Homo sapiens: one gene and its partners. The protein of the gene in region 3 interacts with the protein of the main gene of each other region in a biochemical or structural test. Each region holds a gene or a part of one and is shown on either strand. Other genes may lie near its edges.

Region 1 (4,074 bases), about 41 Mb from region 3:
CCCGGGTTCACGCCATTCTCCTGCCTCAGCCTCCCGAGTAGCTGGGACTACAGGCGCCTGCTACCACGCCCGGCTAATTTTTTGTATTTTTAGTAGAGACGGGGTTTCACCGTGTTAGCCAGGATGGTCTCGATCTCCTGACCTCGTGATCCGCCCGCCTCGGCCTCCCAAAGTGCTGGGATTACAGGCGTGAGCCACCGCGCCCGGCCGGACAGAACTTCTTGAGGGCAGAGTGAGGGTGTTGGGTGTGTGAGGTCCCCACCCTTTGGCTGGGGTGCTGGGCGTGGACAACCTGGTAGTCACTACAGGCCCACAAGAATGGCTGTGGTTCTGTGTGTTTGGATCGAGTATGAGAGATGTCAGAGGAGATCTACAGAGAACCATGAGGAGTTGGAGGAGGGAGTTCAGGAGTATTCCCTGGAGTTACTACCCACCCTTCTCCCCTTTCTGGCTAAGGTAGGAGGCTGGTATTCTAGCATGCCCCATGGAGCAAATCTAACCCCCTTGTCTGCCTGGCAGGGGACACCATCGCCAGCGTCAATGGCCTGAATGTGGAAGGCATCCGGCATCGAGAGATTGTGGACATCATTAAGGCGTCAGGCAATGTTCTCAGGTATGTCTGGGAGCCGAGGTGCCTGAATTCCTGAGCTCAGCCTCTTGGTATTTCCTCAGCCTGTGGCTCACTCAGGCTTTGATTCTCCAACCTCAGACTGGAAACTCTATATGGGACATCAATTCGGAAGGCAGAACTGGAGGCTCGTCTGCAGTACCTGAAGGTAGGGGAACCTAGATAACGTCCAGCCTCCACCCTCCTCTTCCCAAGCCTCTGCCCTGTGGGGGGTCACTTACAGCTGAATCTCCTGTAACTGAAGATTTCTTTTGTCTACTCCCTGATCCCTCGTCTGTACCCACGTCCTGCTAGTTTCCTGCTAGCTTGTGACAGTGGGGTGGGGACTGTCTCTTGCAGCAAACCCTGTATGAGAAGTGGGGAGAGTACAGGTCCCTAATGGTGCAGGAGCAGCGGCTGGTGCATGGTGAGTAGATCCCGGGGTGTGAGGGGCCACTTGTTCTGCTACAGACACCCCATCTGCGCTTCCCCCTCAGAACTGGCGGGTTCTAGTAAAGAACGGTTTACTAGTAAACCTCCACAGTAAAGCAAGGTTTGTTGAGCTACTACTACTTTGGGTACTGCCGCAGCCACATTTCTGGTTATTCTCACACTAGCCCTCTGCAGGTAAGTAACAGATAGTGTCATCTTCACTTTACAGAGGGGAACACCAGGGCTCAAAGAGTTTGTGTCAATTATTTCCGAGGCCCGTTTGTGCTAAGCGGCCCCCATAAGGATCTGAGTGATAATTCCTGATTTGCGGGTGAGGGAAGTAGGGTCTCAGGTTTGTGCCTGGCCAGGGCCACAGAGATGGTCAGCAGGACGGAGCGGGGACGCCCCGCCCATGCCCTCCGACCCTTTGCAGAGGCCACCACGGTCCAGGCCTGACCCGCCCCCTACCTCTCCCGTCTCTGCGCAGGCCTGGTGGTGAAGGACCCCAGCATCTACGACACGCTGGAGTCGGTGCGCTCCTGCCTCTACGGCGCGGGCCTGCTCCCGGGCTCGCTGCCCTTCGGGCCTCTGCTCGCCGTGCCCGGGCGTCCCCGCGGAGGCGCCCGACGGGCCAGGGGCGACGCCGACGACGCCGTCTACCACACGTGCTTCTTCGGGGACTCCGAGCCGCCGGCGCTGCCGCCCCCGCCGCCCCCGGCCCGCGCCTTCGGCCCGGGCCCCGCCGAGACCCCTGCCGTGGGGCCGGGCCCTGGGCCGCGGGCCGCGCTGAGCCGCAGCGCCAGTGTGCGGTGCGCGGGCCCTGGCGGGGGCGGAGGCGGGGGCGCGCCGGGCGCGCTCTGGACTGAGGCTCGCGAGCAGGCCCTATGCGGCCCCGGCCTGCGCAAAACCAAGTACCGCAGCTTCCGCCGGCGGCTGCTCAAGTTCATCCCCGGACTCAACCGCTCCCTGGAGGAGGAGGAGAGCCAGCTGTAGGGGCGGGGGCGGGCAGGGAGGTATTTATTTATTTATTCGCAACAGCCAGCGCTAAAAGAGGGGGAGGCCGAGCCAAGAGGACCCCAGGAGCCCAGAGCAGCGGGAGAGGGTCCTTCCTAGCCTCGGCCCGCCGGGTCGGTTCCTGGCTGGTGTCTGCTGAGGGAGTGGGGGGCCCAGCCCCTTCTCTTCTCCCCCGCCAAACCACAGTGGGAGCTGGGGCAGGGGGAGAGCCAGGCAATCGGGGGCCAAAGATGGGGGTGCTCGCCTACAGTCTGCATCTGTAGTGCCTTGTGGGGTATCCAGGAACACCCTCCCAGCAGGGGATGGGAACCCTGTCCCATGAAGCCCTCTCCTCAGCTTTACTTGCTCCCCCGCCCTTAGCCTTGGGGAGAAATGGCCCGTGGTGGGCTGACCCCCCACCCTCCACACACACAGTTCCATGACCCAGCGGGCCCCCAGGGGCATCAGGTGCTGGTCCTCCTCCCTCCTGGCCTCGACCCCTAAGGGCTTCGCCCCTCCCAGGGGCCTGTAACTAAGTCGGGTCCTGCCAGGCAGGGGGCCTGTGTTCTGTGCCCCTTGGGAGACAGGAACTGGCGAGTTCAGGTGGGGTGGGGACAGCACAGACTGTTCCACCGTTGTGCATATTGTTGCTTCTGAACCACAAACTGTATAAATGGATGGTTTTTTGCATCTGTGTCAGTGTGGTGACTGCCTGAGGGGGAGGATTGGGCTGGGGCAAGCTCTGACTCCACCATCCCAACCCCCGCCCAACGCACACACATCTTGTTTTCTTGCAGCCTGAAGCCAGGGAAATAGGCTGGGAGATTTAAACTTACATGTATGGGCCTGAGCTGGAGGCCCCACGCTTCTTCACAACTTGAGCCTCCCTCCCCAGATACCCAAGCAGGTGGTGACCAAGGCTTGCCTCAAGTCCTTAGCCATCCCTGTAGAAATACGTGTGCTTGGCATGCCTTTCTTCCCAGCTTCTGAGGTCTCCCTTGAGGGGCACAAGCCAGATCTGTAGGGACCTGAGGCATTACCACCTGGCCTGTGAGGGGCCCAATCACGGCTCACTCTGTTGTTCTAGCAGTCTTCAGCGGTTTCCCACCCCAGGATGAGATTTTTCTTTTTTGAGATGGAGTCTCCCTCTGTTGCCCAGGCTGGAGTGCAGTGGCCCGATCTCAGTTCATTGTAACCTCTGTCTCCTGGATTCAAGTGATTCTCCCGCCTCAGCCTCCCGAGTAGCTGAGGTTACAGGCAGGCGCCACCACACCCAGCTAATTGTTGTATTTTTAGTAGAGACGGGGTTTCACCATGTTGGCCAGGCTGGTCTCGAACTCCTGACCTCAGGTGATCTGCCTGCCTTGGCCTCCCAAAATGCTGAGATTACATGCGTGAGCCACCGCGCCCGGCCTCCCAGGATGAGAGTCTGACCCCTGCCGGCCTCTGCTTCTTACTCCCCGCTCTGGCTGCGCTGCTGGCTGTACCTGGCACACTTCAGACCCCTTCTATCAGGGTCTGTGCTCTTACCCCTCCCACAGGTGGCTCCTTCAGTCCTCAGCCCTGCCTCCCGAAGACCTTCCCACCCAGTGGTAAATACAGTCATGCCCTCCCCTGTGACAGCCCTGTTTTATTCCCATCAGACTGTGCATCGCCATCCGAGACTGTCTTGACTTTTATGGGTTTATCTTTGCCTGCCCGCCCCACCCGGGAGGATGCACGCTTCTTGCACAGGGCTCAGGAGCCTTGTCTGTCTTCACTGCTTTTTTCTTGCCTGATGCTAGCACATGGTAGACCCTCAATACAGTGTGTGCCAACATGGTGTGTGCTCAAGCATCTCCAAGTGGTAGTCACGACCTCTTTGAAGTGACCTGTCGGGTCATACAGCAAGCTAGTGTCAGAGCTGGGCCTGGGACTTGAGGCCCCTGCTCCAGTGCTCCTCCCGGGGAGTAACCAGCATGCAAAGGGTGGCTTTGAGAGAGGTCTGAGCAGACCCTCCCTACCTGTCCTGCACCATGGTTCTTGCTTTTTGAGTGGGTCCC
Region 2 (4,352 bases), on a different chromosome or scaffold from region 3:
GGCCCAGTGCACAGCTCAGAAGGGGGACCCACCGGGACCTAACTGGCCTCAGGCTGTGCTAACGCAAATATAGATTCCGAAGTGAGGCTGCAGTGGGCTTGCTCCTGTCTGGGCTGATCAGACCCCCACCTGCACAGCGGTGTCCCATTCTTAGCTTTTCAGGGGGCCAGATAAAGTGGGCATTCTGCCTAAAGAAGTGAAGATGTGGGGGCCTGATCCCTGTCTTTGAAGGTCCAAGTGGCCTAACTAGCTGTCATAGGGAAGAAGAAATGGATTTTTTGTGTGTGGGGCTTCAAAGGACAGGATCGGGCCAATGGGGCAACCATTGCCGAGAGGAAGATTTTTGGCTTGGAATAATGAAGAACTTTGTAATAACCAGAGCCAACTGAGGATGGAATAGGAAGGTGGTGGGGGTTGGTAGGTCCAAGCAGAGGGAGGCTGGGTATGCTAGGGGAATTCCTGCACCACACAAAGGCTGTACTTGATCATCTCCGGAGCTGGCAGTCTTGTTTGAGGGTCTATGCTGGTAGCTAAAATATCTGGAAACATATGTGTGAATCTAGGTTTTCAGCACATAAACAAGGCACACTCTCACTAAGACACTTATTACGCAGTTTTTGCAAAGAGCTAAGTACTGAAAATAACCAGGAATGAGCTTGAGAAAGAGACCGTCTATTCTTCCATCTCCTATACATAAAATGTCCCTCACCCCAGGGAGAAAGAAAGAGGCCAAGTATGTATCTCCACAGAGACATCATCTTCTAACCAGACCAGGAACTAACAGCACATTCACAGGTACCAGGGGAGCCCTGGACAGTCTGGAGTGGTGTCTTTTTCCAGGGAAAGCCAGAGAGAACAGAGACTGCAGCTACTAAATAAATTATTTTTATAAGAACGAATAAATGCCATCCTCGTCTTTAATAATTGTTTTTCCTTTTGCATCCTTCTGAATTCTACATTGGAGCAAAGAAAACAACAAAGCAGTAACTCAGAAGCTTCACATGTGAATAGTTACAAGTCAGCATCAGACAGGGGTTTCAACTGGCAGGGGAGGTGGGATTGTTATCGTTGGTTTTAATACAAGCTGTAGCCTACACCCTATATTCTAGATACTCAAAGAACAGGAAGCACAGCATTTCTCAGCTGCCTGCACATCTGTCTTCTCTTAAGTCAAAAATCTCAGAGAATGATGCACTGTTGCATCCAGATGAATTCCTCTGAAGCTCTTTCCATTCAGGATTTTGAAATTTTGCCATATCACCCTTTTACTGAAGCAGCTGAGGTTCTCAGATCATTCCTTGAAAGAGGTCAAAAGAACTTTTAAATTTACCATCTTATCTTTTCCAACTTGTAATTAGTGTTTTTTTTTTTCTTTTTCACCAAAACAACTAATATTAAGGCCACATACCATTTAGCAGCCAGCTTGGGAAAGGATTGGTGGCCCAAACCACTTCTAACTGCTGGCAAAAAGGTCTCTAAACATCAGATGAGTTCCTGAAAACACTGTGTCACTTAATGAAAATAATGGCTTCTGCCCTCATATCAATCTGCCAAGCACCTAGTCCGGCTTCCCACTGTCCTTCAGGCAGATAGTTAACTGAAAAAAAAAAAGTCTCAGATTTGCAAACCTGTATAATGTAATCTGTAATTACCAAAACAAATTTAATCCACTGTTAGTACTGCTTCCATGAACATATATTAAGTTTAGTGTATATCTCAGGATACAGTAAAAGTACAACTACAATAGCTGTGGATAAACCAAAATTTTATACATTGATTGGTGTTAAGTGCATAGGTATATTTGGTGTTTGAAAGCTTTCTATACTGATCTTTTTTACAGTAAGGAACGCTTTTATAATATAAAGAATGATTGTCAAAAGCTTCAAGGTTCAAATTTTACACAGTATATTCCTTTAAAATAGGCACACTGAAAAGCTAAATTCAAAACTCAGACTCATCTTAGAGGTTGCATCAACCCATCATCAAATGAAGGAGCTACATCTTGAGGGATCAGAATGCCACGAGTGAGTTCAGCTGACAACCATATGCAACCCCTAAGCATCAGCCTCATGTTTCTGGCTTGACTCAAACCATTTCAGATATCGGGAAAATCACAGGCTTTTGTCAATCCGATACAGACCATTATCAAGCTTGCATTAGGGCTAGGCTCTGTGAAAAGGGTTGTGGGGTAGAAAGATGAAGGACATTGTGCCGGCCCTCCCAAGGGCTTTCTATGAGCTGTGGCCACATACACAAGTGACCGCACACAAAATCCTTCAAGGCTGACAGTAATGACTTCTCCATGAGAGGTACCAAGTATCAGGGAACAGTGAAATCCCTGGGATGAGGGGATCTGGAAGACAGCTTCCTAAGGGTGGTAGGATTTGAGCTTAGCCTTCAGGCATAGGCAGGACCACCAAGGCTAAAGCACATGCTAGACAGAGGGGCTAGACGGGGGAGCAAAGGCCTAGAGACCTGAGGCTAGGGGGATTAAGAGTTGGGAGGCTGGGCACGGGGACTCATGCCTGTAATCTCAGCACTTTGGGAGGCCGAGGCGGGTGGATCACAAGGTCAGGAGTTCGAGACCAGCCTGGTCAATATGGTGAAACCCCGTCTCTACGAAAAAATACAAAAATTAGCCGGGCATGGTGGCAGGTGCCTGTAGTCCCAGGTACTCAGGAGGCTGCGGCAGGGCAATTGCTTGAACCCGGGAGGCAGAGGTTGCAGTGAGCCGAGATCGCACCACTGCACTCCAGCCTGGGCAACAGAGCAAGACTCCATCTCAAAAAAAAAAAAAAAAAAAAAAAAAGAGTGGGGACATGGTGCAGAGGAGGGGGTGTGAGAGAAAGGATGGAGGTAGCCCATCATGCCTGCTGGGCTGAGGACTCGGGACTTCAGTATCCATACAGGGAAGACCCACTGAAAGGCTCTAAGGAGGAGCATGATGAGATCAGAGCCACACTTTACAGTACAGAGCACTGAAGCCTGATGCTCAGAGAGAATGGAAAGATGGGGGCATATTTGAGAGAGATTTTGGAAGTAAAAATAACAGGGCTTGGTCACTGTTACTTTACAGGGCAAGGTCACTTGGTCCTTACTGAGTAGATTTCAGTAAGGAGGGAACAAGGGAGAAGGCACAGACAATTAGCCTCCCCTGCTGTAGTTTCCAGCTTGGGAGGAGGAGGGGATGATGGCTGAAGGGTACCCCGCAGCAAGCGGGCACAGCCAGTATTTTGGTACCAGGGCTGGTGGCACCAGGGGCTCAGCTCCACTCTTGCTTTCCCTTTATGCATCAATGAGCACCTCCGGGGGCAGGGAAGGAGGGAGGGAAAGAGATCCTAAAGAAGGGTCTACTGTGCAATGTCCCCGAAGTTGTAGCAGGAGCAGCAGCAGCAGCAGCTCACCACACCACTCGGCCTGATCCTGCAAGTGAAAAGTGCTGTGGGTGGTCATTTCTTCAAAATTCCTAAAATATATAATTCTGTATTGAAGGGGCAGAGAGCCTGCTCTTGAGTCTCCCCGATAACTGTGAGGATAATACCTGTGCACACAGACTGTCTAGTTGTACATGCACCAAGCCCCTTCAGGCCTCCAGGCCTTAGCATTTGCTGTTCCTTCAGCCTGGAACAGTTTCCTCCTTCTCTCACCCTCAATTGAACTTTTATTTGGTGCTTACTACATAACTGGCACTATTCTAAGTACTTTACATGTATCGACTCATTCAGTTATCCAACAACCCTCTCAAGGAGGTACTGTTATTATCCCTAGTTTACAGATGAAAAAACTGAAGTTCAGAAGATTAAATAACCTGATAGTGGAATATATTTAGTTAGCCAAGGGGCAAGTATTCAAATCCAGGTGGTGTGGCCCCAGAGTCTGCATTCTCATACACAGAACTACCCTACCTCTTACAGATACAGAGCTGCTGCACTGACCCTCACCCAGCTCCAGGCAAGACTGGCTCCCTCTCTCCTGTGGCTCTCACTGGCTCAGATAGGCCTGCCCTGACCACCCTCCAATGGAGTCCCACTCCTACTACTTTCTCCCACATTTCCCCACTTATTTTCTTCCCAGCCTTTGGCACAACCTGTAGTTACCTTATTTATGTAATGACTTCTTCATTATTTTCTCCAACTAGAATATAAACTCCAGGAAGGTAGAGACCTTGCCTTTTGTTCCGATGTATTCTCGAGGCACCTAGAACAATTTTCTGGCAGAGAGCAGGTGTTCTATGAACAACCATTGATTGAAAAAATGAAGGACAGTACCATAGATGCTACATAGTGCTACACAGGGTCATAAGGTATTGCAATGTTATTCTTCACCCTCTGTCTTCTTTTTTTTAGAGATGG
Region 3 (5,204 bases):
AATCAGCATCCAATATATGGTACTGTTTCTCCCATAGCCAGGATTCACAGGTTCAGGAATCAAGGGGTGGAAGTCAAAGTGGCACTACTCATCATCACCCCTAGTGATCCACTAGCCAAATTTTTGCCTCCTGTTCCTGTGACATTACGTTCTGCTGGCCTAGAGGTCTTAGTTCCAGAGGGAGGAACACTGCCACCAGGAGACGCAAGAAAGTTTCCATTAAACTGAAGTTAAAATTGCCACCTGGACACTTTGGGCTCCTCCTACCTTTAAGTCAACAGGCTAAGAAGGGAGTTATAGGTGCCCACCACCACACCCAGCTTATTTAAAGAAAAAATATTTTTAGTAGAGATGAGGTTTCACTATGTTGGCCAGGCTGATCTCAAACTCCTGACCTCAAGTGATCCGCCTGCCTGGCCCTTCCACAGTGCTGGGATTATAGGCATGAGCCATTGTGCCCAGCCTGACCTAGCTGTTCTTTTAAAATTTACCAAGACTATTTTTGTTATTTCCTCACAGATTTCATATGGCAATGGAAATTACCTTCACATCATTTTTTTGCAAATGGCTTCATGCATCCCATTGATCTGCCTTTATGTCTGCCGGCTCCATCTAATAATCAGAGCTGGACCCAGACTTTACCTGCTCTAGGAAACATTCCTTGATTTAAGACTCACAAATATACATATAGTACATCCACCCCTGGTGCCTTCTCTAACCAATTATTTACTCAAAATCTCCACTTAGATGTTTCATAGTTCCTCAAACTCAACATGTCCAAACCTGAACACAAGACCTACACTCTAACCACTCATATTTAATTTCTTTACCCAAGTTTATCTAGGTCAGTGAATGGACACCTTGGTTACCCAGTTGAACAAGCCAGAAGCTTGGAGGTCATTCTTGAAGATTCCTTTCCCTCACCCTGATAGGCTACCATTCACAAAGTCTGGGGGATTGTATCTCCTAAATATCTCTTGCATTGAGATACTTCTTTTTAACCCCACTGCCTTCATCATAATCTAACTTAACAACTTCTCATACCTGAACATTCGAATTATTTGACTCAAGTCTACTTGCATCTAAATCCCAGGTATATCTGACATCCATCTGATCATATCAATTCATCAAATGGTTTCACACTGCTCTTAGGGTAAGGAATAAAATTTCTCAAAATCTTATTAAAATAATTCGACTCTAAACATAATTTTTTTTTCTAAGACTACCCTTTTCCACTTTCTTTGACACAACTGAACTAGATCTCATCTGAGAGCTTTATTCTGTTTCACATGTATGGAAGATTTACATTAACAGCCCCACTCTTCCCCATTCCTTACATCCATACACTTTGCCATGTAACATTTCAATGCTCTCCCACTGTTGGTAACATGTAATTCCCTGACGCTGAGTTCAACTGAGTGACTTGCTTTGGTCAATAAAATTAGACCAGATTCAGAGCCCAGGCTCCAAGAGGCCTTGCATGTTTCTACTTGTCCTCTTGAACCTCTCCCTTCACTGTATAAAGAATCTGCTTAATTGATCCCATGGACCCATGGGAGCCCTTTGATCCCATGAGCAGGATAAGGAACATTTGGAGTGGAACTGCTCAGCTAAACCCAGCCTAGACCAAGTCACCCCCAGGGAACACAGAGATTTATAAGAAACAATAACTGTCTGTTACTTTAAGTGGTTTTTTATCTAGCAACAGCTAGCTGATACACAGACATAACAATTTGCATTTCCCTATGGCTTGGTAAGTATCTTCTACCTTTGTTGGTACAATTAGGCCAACAAGGATTAAAATCAACAAAGAATGTGTACATGGATGTTATCCTTACTGCTATGAATATCAAACTATTGCTTGAGGATTGAGGTCCAGTAATAAAACAGCAGCTATTTCTCCAAAAAAATCCTCTGTGACTTTTCAAATGAAATGAGGGCTTTCCTGCCAATCCCACAAGTCAGGAAGATAAAATTGGGCATGGATCTTTCCCTTGCTGCTGCAGAAACTCTTCATCCCTGTCAGAGATGGCAGATCCATTGCTACAACCAGGGGGCCGTGCTGAAAGTTCAGAGCTGGTTTTGGAAATGACACAGTCTACTTCATTCTGGATAAGGGCACAGTCTGTCATAACAGGTTATTTTAAAGGTCACCCTAGATTTAACCAGGACATCTTGTTCCTTTCTTTTATCCTCCAAATTTTTCTTTGAAAAGCTGTTGCATATCTCTGGCCTTTCTATTTTCTCTACCAGACAAAACCTATTACTAAGTGGATGTTAATTAAGCCACAGGGCCAAGACATTGACAATTCAAAATGAAAACTATGACTGCATATGGCATTGTATCCTGCCCCCAAATGCTGTGCTCTTAAAGGGAGACTCTTGAAATGAAAACTCGTGCACCTATAAATGCGAAGAGTGACTTGAGTGCTATAAAACAAAGTGCACTGGTTAACACACCGTCAGCTTTGTTATGTCAGGACAGAAATAAAAATCTAATAGTAAATAGTCAACAGATGTCATAGCACCGGAGAAAATAAATGCATACACACCTGGATGGGTGCAATTCTTCTCCCTGAAATAAATTTTAAGAACATATGTTTTAGTCTTGCTCAAACCCATCCCAAACTCCAAAGCAAACATGTTGAAAGGAGAAACAATGAGCCCTCCTAGTTAAAACATGTTTTACATTTTGGTGGGATTGGAAATTTGAATAACTGGCTCTTTCTCCCCTTTTAAATCAGTGACACGACGTTGTCTTTAAATAGTGTGCATTTGCAAGAGGGCCCCCATTGCTCTCGGGTACCTGACAGACCATCGGTAAGCCTGGCCTTGGTGCATCCTTTCTCAAAGTGCCTCTAAGGACAGAAGAAAGTGAGCGAGATCATTTTCTTTCCTCCCCAGATTGCTGCCCTCCTTTCACTTAAGAGCCAATGCTTCCTAAAGAGAATGTGTCCCCTCAGTGTGACTTCCTGTGCTGTCTCCTTTTTAGGATCTACTGGCCCTTGGGGGAACTAAGCAACTCTGAGATCTATTTTGCTTTGTGGTTCAGCAACTGAGAGGCCGGAGGCTTAGAGCTGTGTTACCTGAGGACTAGGGTGTCGTAGGGTGGGGCTGGGCAGGAAGTGGCCTTCTTGCTGCCGAAGAGAGGCCTGGTGAAGGGACCCTTCATTGACAGGCTGAAGCTCAGGAGGGAGATACTTGTCAGTGGGCCGGGTTTGGGGCTCCAGTGAGTCAGCTGCATTCAGGGCCCTTTCAGGTTCAGAGGTCAATCTTGAGTGGAGTCTCAAGGGTGACAGCAAGTGTGAAGAATCCTTTGGGCTTCCTGGCAGGCTCTTCGAAAGGTAACATGGGAAGCCCACAGGAGCTCCCCAGCTTCCCCAGGTGGTCACCTGCCAGGCATCCTGCCTTGTCCCACAGCCACGGGTCCTTAATCTCCTCAAAGTGGGCGAGGTGGAGATGCGGCCTGGGGCTTGCCGGTCAAACTGGAGGAGACTCCCCTGGTTCTTTGGCAGGCTCCTCAGCGAGGGCCGAGGAGAGGCTCCACAGTCTTGGGGTGGCACCTCTGGACAGAATGACTCTGTTTTCTCCATAAAGCTAAGAGGTTCTACTGTTGGTAGAAGGTTCCAGAAGACGTATGAGTTGCTGTTCTCTGGATCACATGGAGGGTGCTCAATTTCTGCATCCAAGTGCCATGCTTCCTCTCGTAGTTCTTTTCCTTTTCCAGAGGAGAATGTCAAGCAGGTTATTGCATCTGTAGTGAGGAAGAGCAGACTGTGAAATATGTAGCAAATGAGGGAGACTGCAGTGAGAAAAAAGGTCTAAAATTTCAAAGGAAAACTTCTAATTCTTCATAGGCAATAGAGCTCAGTTCACATCAGCATCCTTTACGTTCAGAAGATAATTAATATACGTGACTCCAGCCTTCTCATCTAAATAGCGTATTGAAGTCTGTTTACTGTCTACTTAATATTCCTTCTAGGTTCAAACAAAAAAGCCTTTAAAAACTTTGGTAACTTAAGGTACTTCCTGGAAACCACATAGCTCCTCCCCTTGTGATTATTCCATTTTAAGAGAATCAAATATACATTAAATCCTCCTTATCATCTACATTTATGTATGTATGTACATATTGTGGTGCATTCTGGGGATGCAAGAACAAGGAAAACAAGCCTCCTTCCCTCAAGGTTTAAATTACAGAATGAGACAGGCTTTGAAGGTAACTGATGTAAAGTATCTGACAACGTCTTTTATCTTAGATTCTATCAATCTTTACATTTTGGAAAAAGGACTTGCAGGTTTGAAAAGAAAAACCCAGACATCACCAGGTACCCTACTGTTCATGATTGGAGGTGTTTTTTGCAATCTATGCATGCAGAATTATCTCTTCTCATGCTCAAGAAAAGCTGACCCTTCCATTTCACAGCTTGATTCATGGGAGTGGCTTATTGCAGTTTCGTTATTCTGTACTTTCCCACATGAAGAAGGTATGTGTGGGAAAACATCAATCCTTACACATCCCTTATGGCATGAGAGTTGATGCTTGATGATTTGCAGACCAGGTGTGGGACTGTGGGACAGGCGAGAGACCCATCTTCCCTGGCCGCAGATGGCATGGGAGGTGGCTTCAGACTGTGCGTGGATTGTTTGTGGATGGAACATTAGTAGTTGACCGTATATTCCAAGATCATCAATAATAGTTTTAGTAAGTTTATCATTCTAAAGCAGAACTCAGCAATCTGAAACCCTTTGCCCACATTTGGATAGCCAAAATTTAAGAATGGCTAATAATTTACTTCTTATAATTTTAATTGCATGGGCAATACTTTTTAGTAGAACTTTTCTAGGGTGTATTATTTGCTTCTTTAACTTGATATAGAGAAGGCTGAAAACCAATAAACCTTTTCCTTATAACCTGACCTCATTCTGTTGACTATCATTCTAGTACTTTGCCAAAATACAGTGATTACTACTATGTTTACTATAGTTCTGTGGAGAATACAATAATTGTTACAGGCTTCTATAGCATCTGAATATTCACTCCCACACCAAATGGCCCCACACCAATGTACTCCCTAATTTTTATTCCTTACTTCTCACTATGCTTTTTGTACTTGCCTATGGCAACCACTCTCTCCTCTTTGTTTCTTTTAATCTGTGTCAGTCATAGAAGTCCAACAACCTTGTGAATAGATAATTAATAG
Region 4 (4,352 bases), on a different chromosome or scaffold from region 3:
GTCCATTACTAAAATGTTACTTGCCTGGCTATCCTGGGGTGCCAGTCCCACTGAATCCCGTGGAGCAAAAGATTCAGTTGAAGTCCGTGGACTGTAACAAGTTGCAATGTCACCAGTTCCAGTTCTAAAGGGCATATGTCCTTCACCAGAATGATAGGCCTTAATATTTTCAGAGTTCTGGATGACACTGTCTGTCTGCGGCCCCTGAGAGGCTGTTCTGTATCTTGGGAAATGTTGCCAGTCTTCCTGAACGCTCTTCTCAGTCAAACCTAGCTGTTGCACCAGCAACTGCTTCAACAAACCCACTAAACGATTTAGGAAGGAGGGGGAAAAAAAACATATTCACAACTATAACCTCAGGCTGCAAGAATTAAATTAGCTGACTTACCAATGATCTATCTTTAAAAAGTATCTTTTAATGACATATTAAAATGTTAATTATTAATTTCATACAATCATCTTACTTCATACAATCATTTTCCATTTTGTTTTGAAGATGAAATAAAGCACCATCTTTTAGAGAAGATTTAACGTTAAACTAAACTTGAAAAGATCTAAGCATTCTGAATAGGGAGATACTACTATTTAGAACTCCTCAATAACCAATATCATGCCTCTATTTTTTCTTCTATATAACTAGAATAATACCCTAAAGGTACTTCTTAAGAATGTTGAAAGGCTGTGTTAAGCTAGACAGAAAAAGCTAAAAAAAAGTTCTGCTTTTTCCAGATCCAGACACTATATGCATATTATTTCCTCTAATTTTATGAGATACATACATTTACTGAAAATAAGAACCAATTTAATTTTGAATGGGCCAAGTGTATGCTATGAGGTCACCCAGACAATGATAGAGTTATTGGGACAATGTTATTCCAACCATCAGAAATTATTAAGACTGTTAATTCAGGAGAAGGTATAAAAAATATTGTAGGTTTTAAATAACCAATTCTCTGCTCTCATCACTAGCTTAATGTCTGTCATGTTTCTTTAGGCAACAGGTTCCACTTAGGTCTCTCATCCTCTGTCCTTCTGCTCTACAATCACTTCCTGAGAGATGCCAGGAAGTCTCATGGCTCTGATGCTCACATCTCTATCTCTTCCTAACCTCTCTCTAAAGTTTCACTCCTAAAACTCTAACTTCCTGCTAGTTACTCACTTTTTAGTGTTTTGTCATTCATTATCTTAATCTTGACATGCTTTAAAACTGAGCCTATAATTCTACCAAATCAAAAGAAAGAAAAAAGAAAGTACAATGGAAGGAGGTGGGGGAAGCAGTGGTAGTCCTTTTCTGACTCTTATTTCTGACTAGATTAATGAAATTATCTCTAAATATTCCCTTTCCTTTGACCTCACATTCAAAGAAGTCAATTATTTTAAGCATTTGATGACTTCTCAGTTTCTTCTTATTCCTTCTGATAACATTCTAGTCCAAACTCTTTTAGTCTCAGGCCAGACTATTATAATAGCTTATTTAGTAAGTACACCATTCCATACCTCTTTCCATTCAAATCCTTCCACCGCTTTCAGCCAGATTAATCTTTTTTCATACCTTTAGTCATACGCTGGTTTAAAAATTTCAAGTGGTTCTCCCCAGCCAAAGAAATTGTTCTCAGCCTTTTTCCCACCTCAATACAACTGAGAGATATGCTATCCTCCCATTTTAACAGTGATTCTGAACCAGGCAGGGGGGTGGGGAGCTAACAGAGTGGCATGTGTGTGTGTGCCTGTGGCATGGGCCACTGTAGAGAATACTATAATCTCCACAATAGAACTAGAAGAATAAGTGGAGTTTGATAAATCCACATACTTTAGGGATGGCACATGAGTGTCATACTTAGTAAGTATCTGTAATAAGTTATGAATAAAACTTACAATTTCTTAGTGCATCCAATGCCCACCGTTCTTCTGAGACAGGCAGGTGTGAATCTGGGATTGCGATTTGATAATCTTCTCCAACTTCCTTTAGTGTCCCATCTGTATGTTGTTCCTTTGCAAACTGTCTCTCAGCCACAAACAGATCACGTACCTCTGATTTCCCAGAGGTACTCAGTGAATGAGACTGAGGTTTTGACGATATTAAGGTAGATTCTAATCCCAAATCTCTGTCTGTCCAATGGAATAGAAAAGGTAGACTATATCTAAACAAAGCTTTTAACTTTTAACATGAAGCATTCAGGGAAGAATCAGAAAAAAAAAAAACAATCCATAAACTACAGAGATCATCTGTTAAGAAAAATACACATCACTTAGAACAGTGTTATACTGACACACAGAAGGCTCAAAGGCAAAGTTTGTTAAACTGAATCTCTGATGCTGGAACCTGCATAAACCAAACAGTATTAAAGTTTCTTTGCATTTTATTTTATTTTCTTTTTTTTCTTTTTTTCTTTTTTTTTTTTGGTGTTTCGGTCTTGTTGCCCAGGCTGGAGTGCAATGGCACGATCTCGGCTCACCGTAACCTCCGCCTCCTGGGTTCAAGCAATTCTCCCTGCCTCAGCCTCCCAAGTAGCTGGGATTACAGGCACCTACCACCATGCCCGGCTAATTTTTGTATTTTTTAGTAGAGACAGGGTTTTGTCATGTTGGTCAGGTTGGCCTCTAACTCCTGGCCTCAGGTGATACGCCTATCTCGACCTCCCAAAGCACTGGGATTACAGGCATGAGCCACCACATCCGGCCAGCATTTTAACAGATAATAGAGCACATTCTCCATTGAACTCTTCAGAAGAGTGTACCTGGACTCTGCAAACCAGTGACTGAAATGCCATGCTGCTCCTCTTTTAATTTTGAAGGATCTTCTTCATCATTATCTCCTCTGTAGAGAAAAAAAAAAAAAAAAAAACTTTTACCTTCCTGAGGTATCTAAACATCATCGCAACAAAACATAATAATTATCCTAGTCTTTTCCAACCCAAAACATAAAATAAGTCCTACTACAATGCAAAGGAACACTCACTCGCCAGGTGTTGACTGTGGTAATGGAATTGGCTTTGTGGATTGCTCCTTCACTGATGCAGCCATCCGACAGATTAGGTCCTGCCAGCTTCAGAAAGTTGGAAAGAAATCCAAAATACAAAAAAGAAAAAAGAAATATCCTTTAAATATACTCAGAAAGCAAAACTAAACAAAAACCAAATCAACCAACAACAACAACAACAACAACAACAACAACAACAACAAAACCCACTCTGCCAGAGAATATCTTTATTTTGGCAACACACTATTAAGGCGAGAGTCCAAAACTATACCTTAAGAGAAATCTATGGACACATTAAAAAAACTTCACTTGACATTTTGCACAATTTTTTCTTTAGGAAATAAACTTTCAGAATAGAATCAAAATAAAAGGCATCAACCTAAAAAAGAACAAGTTCATAGTAGAACGTCTCTAAAAGAGTACAGAGGAAGTGCTTGGTTTCCATACATTATAAAAACAAAGTTAAGTTTATGGAATATTACGCTTGGGATAATGAAAATATTAGCTATAGCAAGGTAGCCATATCTGATACATACACAGTCTTTTCAGAAACTGTCTGTGCCACCAGTTCATAAATCTGAGCGCCATTGTCTGACATGGAAATGACGAATAAAGCTTTGTTATCTGGAAAAAACAATACAAGATTACTCTAATACTATGACCTGGGGAGGCCATGAGGGATGTTTTTAGGGTCTTGAAATAGTCTGCCCCTTAAACTAGATAAAGGTTACATATATTTACTTTAAAATTCATCAAGATGTACACTTAAAATTTGTGCAACTTACCATATTAACGTATTTATTGTACTATATTTATTGTACTTCAATAAAACAAAGATTATACGAATTAGCACTAATTCCACAATAATTTACTAGAAACTTTGCTAAAAGCATGTCAAAAATCCAAATTACTGGCCGGGCACGGTGGCTCACACCTGTAATCCCAGTACTTTAGGAGGCCGAGGCAGGTGGACCGCTTGGAGCTCAGGAGTTCGAGACCAGCCTGGGCAGCATGGCGAAACCCTGCCTCTACATAAAACAAAAAAATTAGCCAGGTCATGGTGGTGCATGCCTGTAGTCCCAGCTACTCAGGAGGCTGAGGTTGAAGAATTGCTTGAGCCTGGGATGTGGAGGTTGCAGTGTGCCAAGGTTGTACCACTGCACTCCAGCCTGGGTGACAGGGTGGGACCCTCGTCTCAAAAGAAAAAAAATAAATAAATCCAAATTACCAGATTAAATGCTATTACTCTTTTGCATTTATTTTGAACTGCACTTTTGCTAAGTTGTTAGTTAATAATATTCAGTGAGTAGTGGAGAAAAGAGGTCACAAATTTATTTTGCCACCATGAAACTAACAAGTTTTAAAAGGGACC

What was found. The genes of interacting proteins can lie anywhere in the genome.
Region 1: the proteins of PLEKHG7 (region 3) and TAMALIN interact in a test that uses a peptide from one of them, tested with the Homo sapiens proteins (one large-scale study listed by IntAct).
Region 2: the proteins of PLEKHG7 (region 3) and FRMPD1 interact in a test that uses a peptide from one of them, tested with the Homo sapiens proteins (one large-scale study listed by IntAct).
Region 4: the proteins of PLEKHG7 (region 3) and ARHGEF12 interact in a test that uses a peptide from one of them, tested with the Homo sapiens proteins (one large-scale study listed by IntAct).

What each region holds. Positions count from the first base shown.
Region 1 is NC_000012.12:52,013,168-52,017,241, forward strand, and holds the end of TAMALIN (protein TAMALIN), read left to right. Parts: intron 1-519; coding exon 520-613; intron 614-709; coding exon 710-776; intron 777-967; coding exon 968-1,034; intron 1,035-1,526; coding exon 1,527-2,032; 3' UTR 2,033-2,722; downstream 2,723-4,074. UniProt on the Homo sapiens protein: Plays a role in intracellular trafficking and contributes to the macromolecular organization of group 1 metabotropic glutamate receptors (mGluRs) at synapses.
Region 2 is NC_000009.12:37,653,954-37,658,305, reverse strand, and holds part of FRMPD1 (FERM and PDZ domain-containing protein 1), read right to left. Parts: intron 1-4,352. UniProt on the Homo sapiens protein: Stabilizes membrane-bound GPSM1, and thereby promotes its interaction with GNAI1.
Region 3 is NC_000012.12:92,705,021-92,710,224, reverse strand, and holds part of PLEKHG7 (pleckstrin homology domain-containing family G member 7), read right to left. Parts: intron 3,755-5,204; coding exon of another isoform or gene 3,594-3,754; coding exon 3,087-3,593; coding exon of another isoform or gene 3,072-3,086; exon of another isoform or gene 2,576-3,071; coding exon 2,553-2,575; coding exon of another isoform or gene 2,510-2,552; exon of another isoform or gene 1,676-2,509; intron 1-1,675.
Region 4 is NC_000011.10:120,475,913-120,480,264, reverse strand, and holds part of ARHGEF12 (rho guanine nucleotide exchange factor 12), read right to left. Parts: intron 3,605-4,352; coding exon 3,517-3,604; intron 3,047-3,516; coding exon 2,960-3,046; intron 2,819-2,959; coding exon 2,739-2,818; intron 2,110-2,738; coding exon 1,876-2,109; intron 306-1,875; coding exon 1-305. UniProt on the Homo sapiens protein: May play a role in the regulation of RhoA GTPase by guanine nucleotide-binding alpha-12 (GNA12) and alpha-13 (GNA13). Acts as guanine nucleotide exchange factor (GEF) for RhoA GTPase and may act as GTPase-activating protein (GAP) for GNA12 and GNA13.